Regions from separate parts of the Homo sapiens genome. Here region 2 is linked to region 1. Evidence: fine-mapped expression QTL. A gene starts in region 1. The other region holds a variant in brackets. All regions are shown on one strand. Distances are from middle to middle.

Region 1 (10,578 bases):
TTGTTACTATTGCATTCGGTGATATCCTGGGCAGTTAGCTCATCTTCAGTAATGATTTTGAGTGGGTCATAGATGCTGATACGATGCAGGCGTCCATCAATGTCTACCTCGACAATCCGCTGGGCCTGGGCATATGTCAGGGTCTCCCGGGTGGGTGAGCACTTGAGACTGTAGGGGGACGGGGAACGCCGGCCCTCGGCATTCTGCCGGGACTTCCGACGAGGCTTCCTCATGGCACCTGGGAACTGAGGGGACAGGCCTAAGGAGAGAAGGCCAGGAGACTATGAGTTGGATGCCCTTATGCACCCATTCATCCTCCCATATGATCAAGCATCCACCAAGAGGACTGGCTTTTCCCTCTGTCTGAACAACTTGCCCCTCAGGCATCCACATGGCTTGCTCCTTCACTTCCTTTGAGTCTTTCATTTCTTCAAGTGAACAACACTTCTCAGTGAGACCTTCTCTGACCACTTTATCTAAAATTGCAAATCCTTTTCCTCCACCAGCAATCTACCTTTCATTCTGCTTTATTTTTCCCTTTAACATTCATCATCTTATACCATGCTACATAATTTACCTACTACTATGTTTATTGTTTCCTTCCTTCCACTAGAATATAAGCTCCATGAGGGGAAGAATTTTTGTTTGTCTTGTTCACTGCTGCATCCCCAGTTCCTGGAGCAGTGCTTAGCTCCTAAGTAACCACTCAATAAGTATTAGTTGAATGAAAGAAGAAATCAAACACACATGATCCCTGCCCTCAAGGAGCCCTGTCTAACTCAAAAGACAGAAAAGTAAACAGATTATTACAGTGTAACATGGGGAAAGATCTAATGTTCTAATGATGTACATAAAGCTGGGCGACAGCTAACTATGGAAAACACATGTAGTTAACGGTTTAGAAAAGAAAACAAGAAAAGCATCCACTGTCAAGCTCTGTACGTGAACAATGGGCCCCATCAGAGGATCAAAAGTCACTAGAGTCTTCTCCCAATACCTCTTACCACGATCAGAAACCCTACTCCTTGACCCTGCCTAGAGGTGAAGGGGTGAAGGCATCTGAAATATCTATGATACATGGTCTAAGGGCTTCAAACTACAGTATGCAGGGTATTCCCTACAAAAGACACCATCCAGGACAGCAGTCCCCAGCCTTTTTGGCACCAGGGACTGGTTTCGTGGAAGACAATTTTTCCACAGATGAGGGTGGGTGGTGAACACTGTTCCACCTCAGATCATCAGGCATTAGTCAGATTCTCATAAGGAGCATGCAACCTAGATCCCTCACATGCGCAGTTCACAGTAGGGTTCGCGCTCCTATGAGAATCCAAAGCAGCCGCTGATCTGACAGGAGGCAGAGCTCAGGTGGTAATGCTCGCTTGCCCGCCACTCACCTCTTGCTGTATGGCCTGGTTCTTAACAGGCCACAGTCTGCGGCCTGGGGGTTGGGAACCCCTGATCCAGGATACACCAACTAGTACATTTCCAGGCAGAAACAAACCCTAGAAGCTCTGAGAGTGGCTCCAAGAGATCTCTGAAGTTATAGTGGCCTGTCTAGGACCTTCATTCGACCGAAGGCCAAGATGATCTGGGCAGTATCTGAGGTAAACTCTCAATGCATTCTGTTACCTCAAAAGTCTCTCCCAGAACACTCATATCTAGTCTATCCTTGTACAGCCAAGAGAAAGTCCTAGTTTCCCCCATCATTCTCTGGATGACAAGCTCATAAGGAGCTGCGGTAGGCAGTTACCAAGGCTGTCACCACCAGGAGAGACCTTTGGGGATACAGGGCCCCATGGTGTGGGCAGACTTGGAAGGATATGAACAAAGAGAAGATTTCAAAGAGAAAAACAATTCATCGCCTTGGTTGCAGGGTCTACCATCTATATAAAGTAGAGACGGTGATAATAAAAGCACTTTTTCCAAACTACAAAGCCCTCTTACTTTTAATATTTCTCACAACTACCTTAGGAGATGGTGTAGCTATTATCATCTACACAGAAGCTCAGAAAGATGTCACTCAACGTAAAGCTAGTAAGTGATAACGCTACAATTTGAACCCAGGTCTTCCGATGCTCAATTCCTCTCAGTGGGAATTAAGAACACCACAGAGGTGCTATGGTCTGGTACAAAACGAGGCTCTGGGGCAATCTAGGTTCTAATCTTGGCCCTCTGTGACCTAGAGAAAGTCCCTTAAGCTCTCTATGCCTCCATACTCCATCAGTAAAATGAGGGTAACACAATCTAGCTCTCTAGGTGCTACTTGTTAATAAGGTATTATTAACATCTTTACTTGAAAGGCCTTCCAATCCCAAAGTGTGACTGAAACAAACAAAAAACCAATTTGGCTGAGGAGCAGTGCCAGGCGGGCTGGCACACACCCCATTTGGAGCCAAAGGAAACAGAATCATCGCAGCAATTCTGTCCGGGTTCCAGAGGCCCTTGGCTACTGGATTCCTTACAAATGCCAAGTCCCTGGGGGCAGACAGGGCCAACAGACCTGCTTCATCACCCACCCCTCCAAAGGCACCGAGGCCCTAGAAGAGGTGAGAACATCTGCCTCCACACCGACCCCAAACAGCGCAGACAGGCGGTGCGGCGCCCACTTTCATGAAAGCCGCTCCATCTTCTCCTTCCCCACCTGCCACCTCCTCGGCTGCTCAAGCATCTCTCGACCATGCAAGACTCTACACAGACGTGTTTTGTCCCACCCACGCCTCCAGACACCGGGGAGAAACTCTAGAGGGGGAAGGGACTGCTGATGAGGGAAATGAAAAGAGTTTCGCCCACAAGGAGCTTACAGTCTAGACGAGTTTTTTGGCGGGAGTTTCTCAACCTACACAGCCCTTCCCACATACACACCTCCAAAATATCTCCAACAACCCCCGCCCCCCCAGATTTCCCCTCGGCACCCCCTGACCCCTCGCTCACCCACCCCATCCAGGTCCCCGAAGAATGAGGAGCTTCTGCAATTAGACTGTATCCCCTGCACCTCACACAAGATACTCAGGAGACAAGGAGGACCCCAGCCAAGGCTCCTGCTCCTTTAAGGGGGCACCTCTTCCAGAAGAATCTTGACCCCTCGGAGAAGAAAGGAGGGAAATAACATCTCCTCAGAGGGGAGGGGCGAGCGCACCAGAGACAGCCTGACGTGGAGTCCGACCCTCAGACAGAGAAAGCGAGCGCCAGCGAATGAGCGGGGCGGAGAGGCGAGAACCCATTGGCTGCGTCACCTGCCCGTCAGAGGGACCCAGGGGACCTAGGGCCGCTCAAGGGGCGGGACTCTCGTCTGGCCAGGCCAATTGGAAGGCGTGGCGGGGGCGGGGCTTAGCGGCTCGGAATCCAGGGCTGGGGGGGGAGACAAGATGGCGGCTGCGGGAGGGGGTCCTCGCTTCTCAGCTCCCCCGCTCACCCGCCTTCTCCTTCCCTGCCGCCGCCCTCGCTCCAGGAGAGAGCTTTCGCACCGCCCCCGCCCTGCTCGGAAAGCCCCCCGCTTCTCCGGTTTCCCCCCGTGCAGTCCCTGGTCCCCGAAGGCCCCGATGCCCCCGCCCCCGCTCTGTCCGGCCCCGCTGCCGCCCCCATTACCTCAGCCGCCTGCCCGGCCCCACCGTTCGGGGCCCCTGGGCGCGGGCGGGCAGGCCGCCGAGCAGGTCGGCGCGGCCCGGGAAGCGGAGCGCGGTCTTCTCCCGCGCCTGCCTCCGTGGCCTCCGCCGTGCCCCCTCCCGGCCCGCGCTGGGGCCCCGGCCCGGCCGCCGCCGCCGCTCCCGGGGGAGGAGGGGGAATGGAGCCGCCGCTGCTGCCGCTGCCGCCACGGAGCCCGGCCGAGGGGAGGGAGGGATCAGCCCCCAGGCAGGATCCGCCCCTCCGGCCTCCCCCCGCCACCTCCACCCCTTCCCTCGCTCCCTCCCTGACTCTGCGGGCTCTCCCGCTGAACAGGAGCGAGAGCGCGAAAGAGGGGGAAACGGGAAAAAAATCCCCCCGCCCGTGCCTGGCGCGGCGGCGGCCGGGGCGGTGCGGAGAGGAGCGCGGAGGCGCCGCCGCCGCCGCCACGGGGCACCATCCCCGGCTCGGCCTCACGGTGGCGGTGCGGGCGCGGCGGGGACACCGAGCAAGAGACCGGGTCTGCGCCCGCCGCGATCCCTGCGCACCACGGCCCTGCCCGCCACGGGGCGAGCCCGATAAGAGGGCTGTGGACGTTCGGGTCTAGTTGGGAGAGACAGGGGTCCCTGACTCTTGAGCGGTCAGTCATTTCCTCCCCAGTCCTTGTGGGTGACGTGGCTACGGTTTGGAGCAGCAAGCCCCCTCCCCGAACTAAAGGGCCTCTCCAAAGGTTAAGCCAGGGCAGTCATTGAGGTCAAAACCAATATGTAGTTTCTTGACTGCAGGTGCCTGCACGACTCCCAGAAAGTCGCGTCTCCCCTAACCCCCATGCCCAGGACCTGAGGACAAAGGTCTAGCGATTGTCCATCCCCTCCCCCAGTGAGGACAGCCGGGAAAGACCTGCCTTTGTTGTGTACAGGTGAGCGTCTTGTTCCGCACCACACATCTTTTAAAAAAAAAAAAAAAAAATCTGACTTTCCGTTTAAAAGGAGTAAACAAAAGTTTGACAGTCTGCTTAAGCATGCCTGGTAACTCGTCTGTCACTGTGGGCATGGGAAACACTTTAAACCTGACTTGGTTAATTTAATGCATTAGGCGGCTTTCTAAAAGATGCTTGACAAATGGCAGCATCAGACCAAACTGGCTTTTGTTTTGATCTAAAAAAACAAAAAAATAAAGAAAAGGGCTCCATTGCCACCCCCTTTTGCCTGTAAACTGGAAAGCTTACCTCATGTGACTGAAGTCTTAAGCACCAATACATAATGATGTTTATAAAGGACGTATGGATAAGCTGCCTGTAAATGTGAAGGTGAGTGACAGTTTGAAAGTGTTTCCTCTGCTGGCACTTGTGGTGTAGCTGGTGAGACTCAATTTCTTTCTTGGTTCTGATGATCAAGGACATGTATTCTAGAGTCAGAAGGATGAAGGATAAAGTCTTAGGATCCAAATTTTCTGAATGTTTAAAGTGAACATACTGCTACTTTGGAAGTATAGATGTTATACTAAGGAATTTAAATATAGAGAGTTTCAAATTCAAAAGTTTGATTAAGGAAGCTAATTTGTTTCCAAGTAAATAGCATCTTCTGGCAAAGAGATAGTACAAAAATGCTTCTGTTAACCAATTTTTTAAATGCAAGGGGGGTGGCTCGTGGAGCTAAGCAAGGGCAGGACAATGTTTTGAAAGCTGTGAAGATGAAATAGTATGAATTAATGTCAAGTGTTCTGAAGCTAGGGGGAATAATCATTTGGAGGGAAGGTGTGGAAGAAAAAGATGATTAATTGTGGAAGAGAAAGCCCCAGAGGCAAGAAAATATTGCAATTACAGTACTTGTAGTTAAGAAAAAAAAAGTCTGAAAACTAACAGAAACTATTAAAACATGAAATATAATAATCATTTATACATATGACTAGTAACTTTTATTTCTTGATGGATGTTCTCAAAATTTATTTAGCACAATTCCCATTTGCGTGATCAGGAGCTATCTTTTTCCACTAAAATGAATGAATAAATACCTTGAGAAAATGCATTGGTTTCTACTTGTAAGTCAACGATTTAAATGCTGTTGAAAAGGCCTTAAGTCAACCTAATGCATGTGATTTTTTTCAGGTTTTTCTATTCAAAGCTTTCATATTAAGACCTTATTCAACCTAAGTGTTTCTCTTCCATTTTCAACTTCTACTTTTTTAATGATATCATTACAGTTGCCCTCACTTTAATTTTTGACATTTGGAATTGGTTTCTACAAGCATAACTGCACACGTAACCAGTTCCCTGTGATGGAATCTTAAATGTAACATGGAACAATTATGTTATTAAAAACAAATTTGGAACATATATCAAAAATCTCAGAGGCACTAAATTTAATTCACTTTAATCGTTTGCTATTTTAAACGGTTTAAATTCACCACCCCTGGCCTTTCCAATAAACCATACAGCAATTAAATTCAACAAACAGAGGCATGGATCTTTGATTCCAAATAGTTGTTTTTAAGAACCTTCCAGCTGTAAGTAGAAACCAACTTATTTGGGATAGGAGAAGGTTTTACCATTTAAAACTAAAAGAAACATGAATACAAAAAAAAATCACCATTTCCCCACCTCTTTCTTTCATACTTCCCCATCATACTTTTTTTCAGCATCTCAGGATATCTTTGTTAATGCTTCACTATTGTCATTAGTTTATCAGGCCAAGAAACCTCTCAGGGGTCAGACGCAGTACCCACTGGATTAATAACGTGGATGATAAGGAAAAAAATAGGCCTTGATTGATTGTTAAATTATTTTTAATAGAATATTCCTTCCTTAGATACTTGACTAAAAGAATTCTGAAACCACAGTTGGGAGGAATGTTTGAGGTTGGAATCATTGTGATACTTTTTTTTTTTTTTTTTTTTTTTTTGAGACGGAGTCTTGCTCTGTCGCCCAGGCTGGAGTGCAGTGGCGGGATCTCGGCTCACTGCAAGCTCCGCCTCCCGGGTTCAAGCCATTCTCCTGCCTCAGCCTCCCAAGTAGCTGGGACTACAGGCGCCCGCCACTACGCCCAGCTAATTTTTTGTATTTTTAGTAGAGACGGGGTTTCACCGTTTTAGCCGGGATGGTCTCGATCTCCTGACCTCGTGATCCGCCCGCCTCGGCCTCCCAAAGTGCTGGGATTACAGGCGTGAGCCACCGCGCCCGGCCGATACTTTTACACTAATTAAAATGGTTTAAGAATGTAAAGTTTGCTTGGAAAATGGGAAAAGTTTAGCTAGGTTAACAACAGGTCTTAAATAGAGTAACATACCACACTCTCTAGATTTAATTCCATTTATGTATTTCTAAAACGTATTCATTGACCACTTAGAGTGTGTCTAATACTGCACAAGTTCTTTGGAAAATAATGACAAAATCTCAACCTAGAAAGGGACTAATGATCATAAGTATAGATAGAATATATTTTTTCTTGCCTTGAGTAGTGTGCAATCCAGAATGGTAGAAATAAGTAGAAAACACATACAAGAAAAAATAGATAAGGCAGTGAAGAGTATGGAGCCACCATTATTCAAAGAAGGCTTCTTGGAGAATGGGAGACTTCTTTAAGCCAAGTTCTAAATCATGATGGATGTGAACTGGTGAAAAGAGTGTAAAGTGACATTGGGTTGGTGACAGGACAGTCCAGGCAAAGGGAAAATATGCAGGGAATAATGCGGAAATTATCCTAGCTGGTATGTATGGGCAGATGATAAGAAAAAGATTGAATTGGGTAGGAGGTATGGCAAGGGGACAGGGATAATAAAAATAATACCTAACACTTATGTACAAGGTACTGTGCTTAGTGCTTTATATACTCCATTTATTAAAGATCTTTGTTGCAGTTAGCAGAAAACCAACTTAAGTGAGTTTAATAAAGGAAATAAACTCTCATAACCAGAAAGTCCAGGGGTGCATCTAGCTATAGACAAGATCGAGTCAAAGGACTCGAATTATGTCATCAGCATACTGTATCTTGCAATTTCTCAGCCATCCTGAGCCAATAACTGTGGCCAGAGGGACATGCTGCTTGTCATGTATCAACTCCTAAAACCAGAGGACATGAGCAGGAGAAGATTGTACAATGGGGTAGTAGGTACATGTACAAACTAGGTCCAATATGCACACCATATCTTATTTATCAACTTACTAACTCTATAAAATGTTACTGTTATCCTCTTTATGTATTGGAGAAAGTAGAACAGGAGATCCGGTAAACCTGGAAGAGTTTACTATAGGTAATTAGGCATTATGAAAATAAAAAGGCATTAAGCAGAATGATGGAAAATGTGTTAGAGAAAGAGGAAAAGGAAAGGTCAAATCAGAAATCAGATGACAAAGCAACTGTTTTGTCTGATTGGACATAAGAACAAAGGAGAAGATTGAAGAAGAATCTAAGTTCAAACTTTGTAGGTTCTCACAGTTTGGTACAATCATTGCAAATTAAGAGGTGGCAAAGGGTTGCTCGGGAGCTCCTATTGGAGGTGGGAACCTGAGGATTGAAGAAATGATGAAATCAGCTCAAGTTCTCTGGAACCTCTTTTGGTCACACTGAAATACATATTTATTCAATTACTATTTGTGAGCTGCTGGTAAGGTTCTATTTTATGGCTGTAAAGGCCACAAAGGTGAAAAGAGTATGCTTGCAGACTTGAAGGCATTTAGATTCTAATCACAGTATAAAGCAAGGGTATTTATAACTGGAACGTGCTACAATATAAGCACTTCAAGAGAGATGCAAACGAAGTGCCAAAGTTTGGAGGAGGGAGTGAGCTCGTCTGTTTAGGAGAAGAGGGAAGGCTCTGTGAAGAAAGTGCTATCTGAGCTCTACCTGAAAGCTCTCAGGTAGGTGTGTCAGCTAGAAAGATGGTAGAGGGAGTGTGGTCCAGGCTGAGCCACCCGCATGAGCAAAGAGGAAGAACGTATCAAAGAATAAAATTTCAACAAATGAGTCCCAAAGATCCAATTGGCTTTATTAGCTGTTTATGAACTGGGCAACATCCAGTCTACAAAATAGAAAGGAGTTCCTATGAGCTAAACAAGTAGGTGAGTTTTATAGGCAGAAAGAAGTGAAATAAATCAGGAACAATGAGCAAATAGCAGATTGGTCTTTTCAAGATTATTTTTCTTTATAGGAATGTAAATGAAATCTTGTTGGTTTAATGGGATTTGACTATCATCTCTCTCCTGATTTCTTGAAGAGTCAGATCTTACAGTAAAATACAGGTTTTGGTTTGGTGTCATGGAACCTCTCAGCATGAATGACTCCATTTGGGGTCTGCTGTCTTTTCTTTAACACATGGAATGCCATAAGATTGTTTCAGGAAACAGTGGGTTACCCATTGACCCAAAAATGAGGGATATGAGAGAGAAGGCTGGTAAGGTAAAGTCAGAGCATGGAGACTGTTGGTTGGGTAGGGAGCTAGACATGAAGGGGCAGGAGACCCTGATGATTTTTGGAACAGGGAAATGACTTCAATAGTTCCATGCTTTAAGTTCTAGTCAGGCAAGAGAGTGTGATACGGTATGGTTTAAATTAGCTATCCAGTGTGGCTTGCATTATCTTCTGAACTTGAATTCTAGCTAGAACATTTTACCATATACTCAGTGGAATGCTAAACCAAGCAAGCATGAAAGCAAGTAGTATGTGACAAGTATAAATTGTTCAACTTGATCTAATGTCTTATCTTTTCAACCTTTAATTAGGATTTCTATTAAATCCTAAACTCTTAACTGTGAGTGAAGCCAGGACACTATAAAATATAATTCCATATTTTAGCAGAAGTACCAACCCTAAAAGTAGCCATCTTCTTGGCATAATTTTACTAAAGGGAGAGAAAATACACAAAAATAATAGCACATACTAAACTAGAACCTGCATTTTGACAAGATTTCCATAAGTAATTTATATGCATATTAAAGTTGAGAAACAGTGAATTAGAGGATTTTAGAGAATTCCAGGATTAAAATACTCTGAGAAAAAGGTAAAGTTAAAGGATTAATATTAGCTTTTGATTACTCCAGAATACCTATAATAATAAAATACATGTTTCCATTTATATGAAATTCTGGAAAATGCAAACTGCTCTATAATGATAGCAGATTGGTGGCTTCCTGGATGTGAAGGGGAGGAGGGACTATAAAGGGCATGAGGAAACTTTTTGGAGTGATAGAAACATTCTGTAAGTTGATGGCAGTGGTGGAGAAACAGGTATATATACATTTGCCAAAACTTAAACTGTACAGAGTAGCTGTCTTTTATTTTACATAAATTTTACCACAATTAAGTTGATAAAGCATACCTGTTGCAATTTTTAGACTAATCATTAACATTAAAAGAATGAAAAAATGAGGATGTAACTCACAAACTAGTACAGAGTAAAAAAAGAATAAAAAATTCGACCAACCTAAAAGAAGTCAAGGAAAGAAAAGGAAATATAGTAAAGGTGAAACAAATAGAAAACAATGAAATGATGGCAAATTTAAATTCAATTTACAATTTACATTGTACATTGTAGAAAGAGTAGTCCACAATGAGTGGGACATTTCTGGAAAAGTTTAATGATTGCATGGTTAAAATAATGTCTGGCTTGACAACATGCATTGGTCCCCACTCCCTCCCCTAACTTCAATAATGTTAGTAAAGGATAAAAAAATCCACAAGACAATGAAATCCACAAGAACAAAGAGAATGAGGGAAAACAACAGCAGGTGAGATTTACTATCTCAAGAAATTGAACTAAAGAAGTTCTAGACTTGGGGCCACCAGGAACCAATGAAGACAGCGATGAAGTGTCATACTGAAAACGGAAATTAAAGGGAATCTCTGCATACTAAATAATAAGATGCTCCCCCGAGCCCCAATCATCACCATCACATGTTCTTCCCTAGACTGATGAGGGAGGGGAAATCTGGTACAAATTGCTGGAATCTGGTGGTGCAGAAGGGGGCTAAGAGAAAATTTCATG
Region 2 (10,729 bases), 41 kb before region 1:
GAACCCCAAAACTGAGGCCAGCACTGAGGCCAAGCACAGTGGCTCATGCCTGTAATCCCAGCAGGCATGAGCCACCCTTTGGGAGCCTGAGGCCGGAGGATTATTGAGGTTGAGAGTTCAAGACCAGCCTGGGCAACATAGTGAGACCTTGTCTCTATAAAAGAAGTTTTAAAAATTAGCCAGGTGTGATGGCTCATGCTTGTAGTCCCAGCTAATTGGGAGGCTGAGGTAGGAGGATCGTTTCTTGAGCCCTGGAGGTTGAGGCTGCAGTGAGCCATGATTGCACCACTGCACTCCAGCCTGGGCAACAGAATGAGACCCTGTCTCAAAAAATAAAATTAAATTAGAAAACAATAATAATTATTATTAATAAATAAAATAGTCCAATGAAAATAATCATACTATCTCCATGCAATGGAATTCTATACAAGAGTGAAAATGAACTAACTCCGGACATGCGTATCAGTACACTGAACTTCAGAACTATAATTATGGGTGGGACAAAAGCCAGCCATAGAAAACTATTCTATTCATAATCCCAAAAAGGTAGTATACCATATTCAATTATTATATATATTTATGTCTTGTTATATATAATGTTTATTACATTTATCTTAGTATAAAAATATAGTATATTTATCATAATCTATTATAAACAAGTAGTAGGATTATAAAAAGACAAAAAGGGCAGGATAAGCGTAAAATTCATGATAGTATTTAGGGGAAGAGGAGGGTGGGGCTGGAGAGAGGCACATGGTTTCAAAAGCCCAGCTTCTTTGTCTAAAACAGGGCGTGGGTACCCATACTGGTCTATTGTATTGTGGGTGTCTTTAAAATGTATATATATTCTATAACTACTATTTTTGTATCTACTCAATATTTAATTTTAAAATTTTAAATGAGGCCTAGAACACTATAAAAAGTATGCTACCATTTGTATAGAAAAAGTGGACACACACATCACTCATGTGCATAGATTAAAGTGTCTCTGGAAACTTACACATGCAACTGGTGAAACTGGTTTCCTCTGGGGAGGAGAACTGGGAGGCTGGGGACAAGGAGGGGCAATAAATCAATTGAAATTAAAAATCACAAAATTTAAGGAGAAGGAGACAAAGAAGGGAAGGAGGAAGAGAAGGGAGGGTGGAGGGGAGAGGCCAAGTCCTGGTCCCAGGAGGGACAGGGAGCAGAAAGAGGAGGACTGGCCAGGCTCTGGCTATCAAAACCTGTGTGTGCCACAGGCACGAGTGGAGCCAGAAGCCTGCAGTCCTGCCCAGGAAAGCCTGTGTCCTCCGCGCACAACTCAGGCTTAGACCCAGAGAATGCTCTTTCTTGCACCTGAGGACGGGGCTGGCTTCAAACAGTTGCCCAGGTTGACCCTGGCTCTGCAGTCTTTTGTTTCCAGAGCTTTGCTTCCAAACGAGGCTCCCTTGGGTCTCTTTCCCTGGCCCTGCCTTCTTATCTCCAACCTTCACCCCACCTGTGATCCAAGCGATTCCTTTGAAGTTGCTTCAGAGTCTTCTGAGCCTTCATCCTTGATGACTCTGAAATGTGCGTCTGTGGCACCAAGGTCAGCCAACAGCAAGTAGGCCCTTTTCATCTCCTTTTAAACCTTCCCCTCAAGGACTCAGTGTCCTTGCTGTATTGCCTTATCAAAACCTGCTCACATATCCTTTGTTCACACTGGGATACCGGTCATTTAAAGGAAAACAGGCCCACTCTAACCAGGGTCACTGCCAAGTCCCTAAGTATCATGCCCTTGAGAGGTAAAAGCATAAAGCACTAAGGGTAGAATTTTGGGCAACAGCCAGTGGACAAGGACAAAATGGGTGCAATATGCAGGGGTCCCTTCTGCCCCACCGGTAACCATAACACCTCAGGACACAGGCTGGGGTCTGTATTCAAAAGTGGGTCCCTCAGACCGGGCACAGTGGCTCACGCCTATAATCCCAGCACTTTGGGAAGCCAAGGCCAGCGGATCCCTTGAGCCCAGGAGTTTGTGACCAGCCTGAGCAACATGGCGAAACCCCATCTCTACAAAAAATACCAAAATTAGTCTAGTCGGGCATGGTGGTGCACACACCTATGGTCCCAGCTATTTGGGAGGCTGAGGGGGGAGAATCGCTTGAGCCCCAGGAGGCAGAGATTGCAGTGAGCTGTGATCGAGCCACTGCACTCCAGCCTGGGCAACAGAGTGAGACCCTATCTCAAGAAAACAAAAACAGAAAGTAAAAAAGCAATCCTCGAGCAAAAGTGGGTCCCTCAGAGCCCAATGACAGTGATGAGGAGGATGAGGTGGGAAAGGTAGTGTTACTCTGAACTAAAAAGGACTGCCCAGTGTGACCCTATCTCCCAAACAGCCCATGCAGGGATCTGGGTGGCACCATAGTACAGAAGTGGGTGCCAAGAGAGGCCTGGGCTGCACAGCCAGGTGCATACATGCCCTGGAGTCCAGGACAGGATCAGCAGCAAATCCACTCCAGGGAGCTCTCCCCCCTCACCATCCTCTCAATCAGGGTTCCCCAGTTGAAAAGCACCTTGGCAGTTCATAATTCTCCCTCTAAAGCCAGAAAGTGCTGTAAAGGATAACAGAAGCCTGGCTGCACAGTGGAGCTTAATGGAAGTCATTCAACAAGCAGGTCTGGAGCAAACATCATGGACCAGCAGTACTGTGTGTTGGCACAGATGTGAAGCAACTATACTCTGATACGGCTTGGATATGTGTCCCCACCCAAATCTCATATTGAATTTTAATTCCCAGTGTTAGAGGAGGGGCCGGGTGGGAGGTGACTGGATCATGGGGGCAGATTTCCCCCTTACTGTTCTCACGATAGTGAGTTCTCAGATCTGGTTATTTTAAAGTGTGTAGCACCTCCCACTTTGCTCCCTTCCTCCTGCTTTGGCCATGTAAGATGTGCCTGCTTCGCCTTCCCCTTCCGCCATGATTCTATGTTTCCTGAGGCCTCCCCAGCCATGCTTCCTATACAGTCTGCAGAACCGTGAGCCAATTAAACCTCTTTTCTTTATAAATTACCAAGTCTCAGGTATTTCTTTATAGCTGTGCGAGATCAGACTAATACAGGTGGGGAGCTGTGCAAGATCAGACTCATACAGGAGGGGATATAAATTGAACACCAAATGGGAAACTGGCAGAATCCACTAAAGCTAAACATATATCTGCCCCGTGACCTAGCAATTCCACTCCTGGGACATACAAGCACTTATGTCCATCAAATGACATGTACAAGAATGTTCACAGCAGTGTTATTTATAACAGCCCTAAACTAGAAATAACCCAGTGCCCATCAGCAGGAGAATGGATACCCAAACTGTGGTGTGTTTGGATGATGGAATATTACTCAGCAACAACAAAAAGCAAACTATAGCTACATGCAAAACAGGGTGGAGCTCAGAGCCACAATGTTAAATGAAAGAAGCCAGACACAAAAGAGCGCAAGCTGTGTCATTCCATTTATGTGAAGTCCAAGAACAAGCAACACTAACCCACAGCAATGGAAGTCTGGATGGTAGTTACACTTGCAGCAGGGGTCCTGACTGGACAGGGTCATGAGGAACCTTCTAGGGCACTGGAAACATTCTGTATTTTGATTTGGATCACAATTTCATGGGTGGGTACACATATAAACACTCATAGAGATTAATCTTAAGATTTGTGTCCCAGAGTTACTGTATGTAAAACTATATCTAAAATATGAAAATACTCAAACTTCGGGGTCTGTTCCTCCTGCTCCTGACCTGACTACTCCACTAACTGGTCCTGACCTCGGAAGCATGTTGTATCTGCTGTGGAGTGATCTTCGTTCCCGATGCTGGTGGCTGTACCCAAAAGCAGAGGTGGGAACTTCTCAATCAAGAGGAGAATTATATGGCCATATGGTGGCTTCCTCACTCATTAGATGTTTGTACATGGGGCAGAATTTGGTCTAGGACTGAATTCCATGGAAATTTACCCAAGAGAGCAAAGTTGTTGGGAGGAAGATATATAGCTCCCATCTAATTTCAAATGCTATGGAGACTATCAGTATTTTAACAAAACAGAGGAACTAACAGGCAATGCTTGGTTTAGGCCAGTCCATGAACAACAGCAAGTGAGAAAAAGCCAGACTTAGGCTGAGGAGGCGTGGGGAGGACTTGCATCCCAGTCGTACCATGAATTTCCGCAGTGATGTCAGAGAGGTAACAGACTACTCAACTACCTAGTACAAGAAACTAAAATACATGCTCTACCTAGAAAAAACAAGAGACTATAAGGAATTACATTAAAATGGTAGTTTCTGTGTGGTCAGAAAAAGGGTAGTTCTTAATTTCTTTGCACTTAAAAATTTTCCCATATTACATACAAAAAACCCCCACGGATTTTATAATCTTTCCTGACCAGCTTAGATAAAATCTCCTTCAGGCGTCACTCTGGACTGTGAAGCTGAAGGGAAGGAGCCCACCCCTGGACCCTTATGTGATACTCCCTGCCCATGAGGAACCATCAACGTCGCATCCCCAGTATGGCTTCTCTATCCCCCAAACGGACGAATACTAGGCAGAAAGGAAGAGGAAGGGATTGAGACACGGCTTCAGGAGTTCAACTGAATCCACCCTCTTCCAACCAGCCTTACAGGTGTCAAGCAAAGGACATAAAATGTTCTCAGAAACAGCACCACGGCCCTTCTGAAATTTGGGGACAACTAGCTTTTTTGACTCTATGTAGCCTGTGATGGGGGTAGAGCTCAGTAGTAGAGTGTTTGACTGCATGTAGCCCGTGAGTCCTGGCCCTATTAAAGTTGAAGAGAATACTTATGTATATGTACACACACACACACACACACACACACGGACGTTTTTCGTCTATCCCCAATTACCTTCTGCCACCCTCGAAGGGAAAGGGCAGACAGAAGGTCACCCCAGGTGCCAGTGAAATGGGAAAAGTTCTCTTATCCCCCTCGCTGGGCATGCAATGGGGGTGTGGCTCACTTCTTTGGTACCCCATAGCTCAAACCCCTAGCGGGAGCATGCAGACAGGCAGGTCATGGGGAGTGTGGGCTCCGACCCCACTGCAGCGTCTAAGGTTTGAGTGTTTACAGCTCCCCAAGCCCCAGTGGGTGTGTGTTACATTATGCTCTTCTAGTTTAGCCATCCGCAGACAGCTTGTGTTAATCAGCTTAATTAGGCCCTCTGCCTTATCACAAGGACAGAGGGCTTTCTGTATCCTGGGTTCTTGCCTTGGTGTACCAGAAAAATAGGATCACATGTGGGCTTGGAGGATGGGTGCAAGGTTTTATTGAGTGGAGGTAGCTCTCAGTGAGGTGAATGGGGAGGCCAGAAGGAGGATGGAGTGGGAAGGTGGTCTTCACCTGGAATTGGGCTGCCCGGCAGCTGGACTCCGACCGCGCTGTGCCAAATTTCACGTCATCGTGGCGTCGTCGATAGCCTGTCGGCATCTGTTGGTGCCTTTCGGTGTGTTCTGCTTCTCTGGACTTCCAGCCGGCTGTGTGTGTGTGCCCGCTAGGGTCTCGGGGTTTTTACGGGCCCAGGATCAGGGGC[G/A]TGGCGGGCCAGAGTGGTCTTGGAAAATGCAACATTTGGGCTCAAAAACAAGGGTGCCTGTCCTCACCTAGGTCCGTGGACCAGGCCTGAGGGTGAAGCCCTCACCAGGGACCCCATTCTTCTCTACCCAGCACTTCCCTGCCCTTCTCTCGTATCACCAGGGTGGATCCAGCACTCCTCTCCAGCTCTAGCCCAGCACGTATCTCCCTGGCCCTTCTTCCTCATCACAGAGTAAGAAACTTCTGCCCCACCTTTTGGAGAAACCACTTCCCTCCTCCAAAGACCTCCTTCCCTCATCCCAGCTTCAGTAGAGGCCAGAAGGCTGCAGCCAGCAGGACCAGAGACCTGCACACTCATTGCCCGACTGCAGACACTGTGGGAGGCCTGCAGACTCAGGGTAGTCAAGGCCCACACCCTCCCTCTCTCCTTCAGCACTACTCCGAGCCTGGCAGTCTTGCCACTAGCCCCACCTCTTCTCTAAAAGTGAAACTCAGAGCCTAGCCAGGTCAGGAGAGCCCATCTGACGCACTGGCACATTCACACTCAGGTGCTAATGGCATCTAATATATTAATGGAAGCAGCCAAGCTGACAAGGGATTTTGGCAAATGCTTTCAATGATATTTTTTAACTTGTTAGGAGAATGGGATTCTCTATTCCGAGAGTCAGAGTGTCTCCAACACATGTCCCAATATTACAGTATCATTTTAGACTTGAGTTCATGAATTTCAGTCACATCATTGATAAAATTTATTAAGGACACTTTTGCCTACTTTGGGTAATATATAAGTCCGTGGAGAGCAGAAAGGGCTGAGTGGGTGCTGAGTTCTGGTCCAGCCCTGCCTTTTCCTGCCTTGTGATGCTAAGCACATCTGACCTGCCTTTCTCCTCCATCTGTGGCATGAGGGCTTGACATTCCCTGTGAGGCCCTCCCTGGAGAACAGACCCCTCAAAAGGTGCTGTCTCCCCCTTTCCCCCAACCCCAGACTCTAAGTGTAAGGGGCTTTCCTCATGTCTGTCCTTCGCCTTCCTTGCTGTCCTTGGCCATTCTTCTAACTGCCTAGGTGGGCTCCACTGTGCCCACATCTCTGTCATCTGCTCCCATCTTTCTCCTGAATTCTGGGCTCAACTCCCATCTGTTTGCTGGAGGTTTTTCTTAGATGTCCCATAGACAACACAAACTCATCAAAAAACCTACACTTTCTCCTCCCTTCAAAACCCACAGCGATCCCTCCAGCAGCCACCCAGCATCCTGTCTTAACACTCTTGCTTTTTAACTTTGATGTTTAGTTAGTTGCCAAGCTCCAATCAAGTCTCTGCCCTGTTCAAATCTTTCAATGGATGCTGCTACCTGCCATATATGAATGGCACCCACCTTGCCCTGTCTTTGGGATCCTTTATTACGTCAGTCTCAGAGAGGCCCAGGGTCACAGAGTGAGTGACAGTGACAGGGCTTTTAAGCCCGATATACTGCTCGCCACCTCGGTGGGTTCCAGTCACGTGGGAGGTCAGCTAGTCACTGGAGCTGGAATATGCACAATCTCTTTCTGAGCCATGACTTTGTCTCCTCTTCTTAGCCTCGCCTGCTAAAATCCTACCCATCTGGCCACTTTTATTTCTAAAATGGTTTATAGAATGAGCTTGTAATTTCACCCTAAATATTTTGTAAATATTTTGCAAACGTCTTTGTAATTCAACTTACAATTCATAAATAAAGTCTTTCCTAACCCCATTTGTCAAGGCTTGAATTAATTGCTGCTTCTGAAGGCTTTCATTACTCCCCAACCAAACATGTCTCTCCCAAACGCCTCCACATATCTGGGACCCTCACACTGGCCTTATGCGGCGTTATGTGAGATGTATCTTATAAATCAGGTTGTGAGTGTCTTGAGACCAGGGGTGTGTGTCTTTGCAGCCCCAACACGTAATACAAGGATTATCAGCACATTGGCAGTACTTTGTCAGTGTTAGGCCAAAATGAGAACTTTGACACTTTTTTGACTTCAATGACAAGGCTGTCAAAGGCCCCGTGGAGGAAGTGATCAAGAGACCCGAGTCCTCAGCCACACCGAGACAAGCATAGGAGCCAGGTAGGACCAGAATGGGATAGGAGTAGGGACAGGGGAAAAGCTATTCTATGCCCAGCAACCAAGCAGTTTGTCTCTGGGAACTCCCCTCTGCTTCTGCTCTTCAGGACATTCCTATCCAGAAATGCCAGAGCCACAGCCACTGAGAGAGGAACACGATACAGAATAGGCCAGTGGAGTCTTGAAATGCTGTGGAGCCCATAAACAAAGCCTTGGCCAGATCCTTGTCTCAGAATTATGCCACAGTTTCTTAGTTGGCTGACCTTGGTCTTTTAATTTTGCTGGTCTGTTTCCTTGTCTGTAAAATGAAGACCAGGTAGGCTTAAGGATGCCTTCCAGCTTTAAGAGGAGTGAGGCCTATATTCCCCTGTGTGTGTCCCAGCTACCCATCTACAGAATTAAAACAGCAGCAGTGACATAAGAGGTGTGAGCATCCTTGAGTCTCAAGTTCAGCAAGCTTGGTAAGTCAGGTGTGTCCAAAGGGTCACTCTCCTTCTGAATGAGGAGCAGAGGCTCCTAAAGGAACATGGCCACAGGGAAGGCGAGGCATGGGAAGGTAGGATGGACCTTCCAACAGCTCCCAGAAGGTGCCAGCGCTGTCCGGGAGGGAAGCAAAGTCAGAGAACATCCTCACACTGCTCCTAGGGGTCCAAGAGATAGACAGAAGCTGGGCATGGTGGCTCCCACTTGTAATCCTAGCACTTTGGGAGGCCAAGGCGGGAGGATTGCTTGAGTCCAGGAGTTTGAGGCCAGCCTGGGCAACAACAACAAAAAAACAGCTGGCCATGGTGGCACGTGCCTGTAGTCCCAGCTACTGGGGAGGATGAGGTAGGAGGATCTCTTGAGCCCAGGAAATCGAGGCTGCAGTGAGCTATGATCATGCCACTACACTCCAGCCTGGGCAACAGAGACGCTGTCTCAAAAGAAAAAAAAAAAAAGAAAGATACAGCCCTCGCTAGCTAGGAAACTTTCTTAATGGTCCTGGCCTGTTGAGGAGGAGGCTGTAGGGAATGGGAAGACAGGGGTAGGCCCCTACTGATTAAACACAACACAGCAACTACTGCCCATTAGAACATTTATTTCTCAGAGAGAAAATAAGTTTCAGACAGTCATATTATAGTAGGTAAAATTAACTTTTGTATTCTTTACAAGCATAGATTTTTCTCTGTTTATTACCTCTCTTATACCATCTGTTATAAACAATTCTAGAAAGCAAATAAAGTCACTCTCTACAATAAATAGAGCATCATGTGCTTCACAGCAGACGCGACAGAGACACATAGGCCCCGTGCCACAGCAGGATCTGAGCCGTTTCCCGTTCTAAAAGAGCATTTTAAAAAATGAGACTCAGAGAGAGACTAAAATATTCAGAGATTGAAAAATAAAGAGAGAGACTAAGAAGAGAAAGTGTTGGGGGGAAGAGATAGACATAGAAAGAGAGGAAGTCCCAAGATCTTACAACACAGGTTTAGACAAAGGTCACAGAGTCCACAGCTGACCAACTACCTGGGGAGAGGGGAAGCACTGGCTCCTTTAAATCAACGACACTGTGTGGCCACACAATGGAGGACTCCAGTAATGGAAACTATAGGCCTGAATAATTTAGAACAGTATTTTACAATTATATACACCATGTCCTTCCCTAGCCATATGCTGTATTGTTTTTATTATTATACAAAATCCAAAACCCCATCCTTTTAAGTTATAGTGTTTTGTTGGTTCCCTTTTAAACTCTGGCTCATGTCCCAAATGTATAAGAAGTTGTGGTGGTTGGTTGGTTGTATTTTTAAAAAGTCAAGTGTGTAAAAATGGCAGTGATCTCCCCAGTGACTGTTTTGTCCAAAACTCCCCTATGAAAAATTTAAAACAATTAAAAAGAATATCAGGTTAAAAATCAACATGGCAATCAGCGGCCTGCAACTGGCCCTGCGACTTTGGTGCTCAGGAGGTGAAAAGAAATGTCCAGAGAACAGACACTGAAGCCTCTGAAAGTTGTGTTGGTTTGTCAGTCAGCATTCCCCATTCACAGTTTTTTTTTCCTTCCATTTTTGAGAAGGTGAAGGTGGGGAGGGGGTTGAAGAGAAAGAAGGAAGGAGGCAGAGGGTTTGAAATAAAAGTAATGCATTCCCTGGAGTTGGGAAGTGGGAGTAGCAGAGGCTAGGCAGGGCAGGGCAGAGCGCAGGCCAGGAAGATGTTTGGTGGCAGGCGCCATGCCATCCAGGTGGTGGAGAGTGAAGCTTAAGACTGCAATTGCAGAAAAAGTCCATGAGGAGAGAAGAAGGAGAAAAGGGGGAAGAGGGCAGACCCAGCTGACGAGCACAGCTCCACACAAACCACCCTCGACATCCATGTGGACAGATGGACACTCGCACACCCAGCCTGATAGGAGCCCACCCTGAAGGCTTGGACCACCTCGTGGCAGCAAAGAAAAAAACAAGAGGGGACCCGCCTTGATCCAGGGGGCACACTTGCAGAGCTGGGAAGTTGTGTCAACAGCTAAAGGGAAGGTCTGTGGGTGGGAGGTGGTGTCCTGGGGGAGGGGGTCATAGGTTGTGGGCTGGCCTCTGTCTGGGCCTGAGGAGCCTGGCAGAGACACCACCTGGCATAGCAGCTGGCCTCAAGGGGAATGAGACATTAAAGAAAAAGACCAGTGTGGTGACGGTTTCTGTCAGTTTGGCACAAGAGAAAAAGAAAAGGAATATGGGAAAGAGAAAGCAAGACTGGGCAATGGGTGCAGAAGATGGGACCGAGAAGAGGTGTGAGAATAGGCGATAAGCGGGAGAGAGTGTGAGCTTGGGGAGATTCCCCCTGGGACCCTGGCGTATCCACGGCATCTCTGGGATCAGTGTCGGAACCTCACCCGCCCTGAGGTGTAGTTAGTGGGAGTAGGATGGAGCGGGCCAGGCAGCCCCTCAAGAAGGAGCCCAGGACCTCTTGCCATCTGGGCAATCTCCTAAGCTGGGCCCAAGCCCCACAGCTGTTTCTACTTCTAACTGGTTCTTCAGTGAAATATCCCCTGAGGGACCTTGGGTGGGAGTTTTTGGCACACAGCAGGCCTGCCAGGAGAACCATGCGATTGGTCAAAACT

Evidence for each region.
Region 2: its variant is fine-mapped to the expression of BRPF3-AS1 in testis (GTEx, PIP above 0.99).

Annotation. Positions count from the first base shown.
Region 1 is chr6:36,189,978-36,200,555 of GRCh38, reverse strand. It overlaps BRPF3-AS1 (BRPF3 antisense RNA 1), which reads left to right and starts at 3,353. Exons shown (of 3, transcript NR_187147.1): 1 at 3,353-4,519. It overlaps BRPF3 (bromodomain and PHD finger containing 3), which reads right to left and starts at 3,812. Exons shown (of 13, transcript NM_015695.3): 1 at 3,586-3,812; 2 at 1-259. The coding sequence starts at 233. RefSeq lists an enhancer at 3,058-3,107 and a silencer at 3,458-4,197.
Region 2 is chr6:36,230,761-36,241,489 of GRCh38, reverse strand. It overlaps BRPF3 (bromodomain and PHD finger containing 3), which reads right to left. Exons shown (of 13, transcript NM_015695.3): 13 at 8,700-10,729. Among named protein-coding and RNA genes, the nearest start is that of PNPLA1, 34 kb to the left of the region's middle. RefSeq lists a silencer at 1,364-1,658 and an enhancer at 5,495-6,040. The variant G/A (reference allele first, on the strand shown) is at 5,557.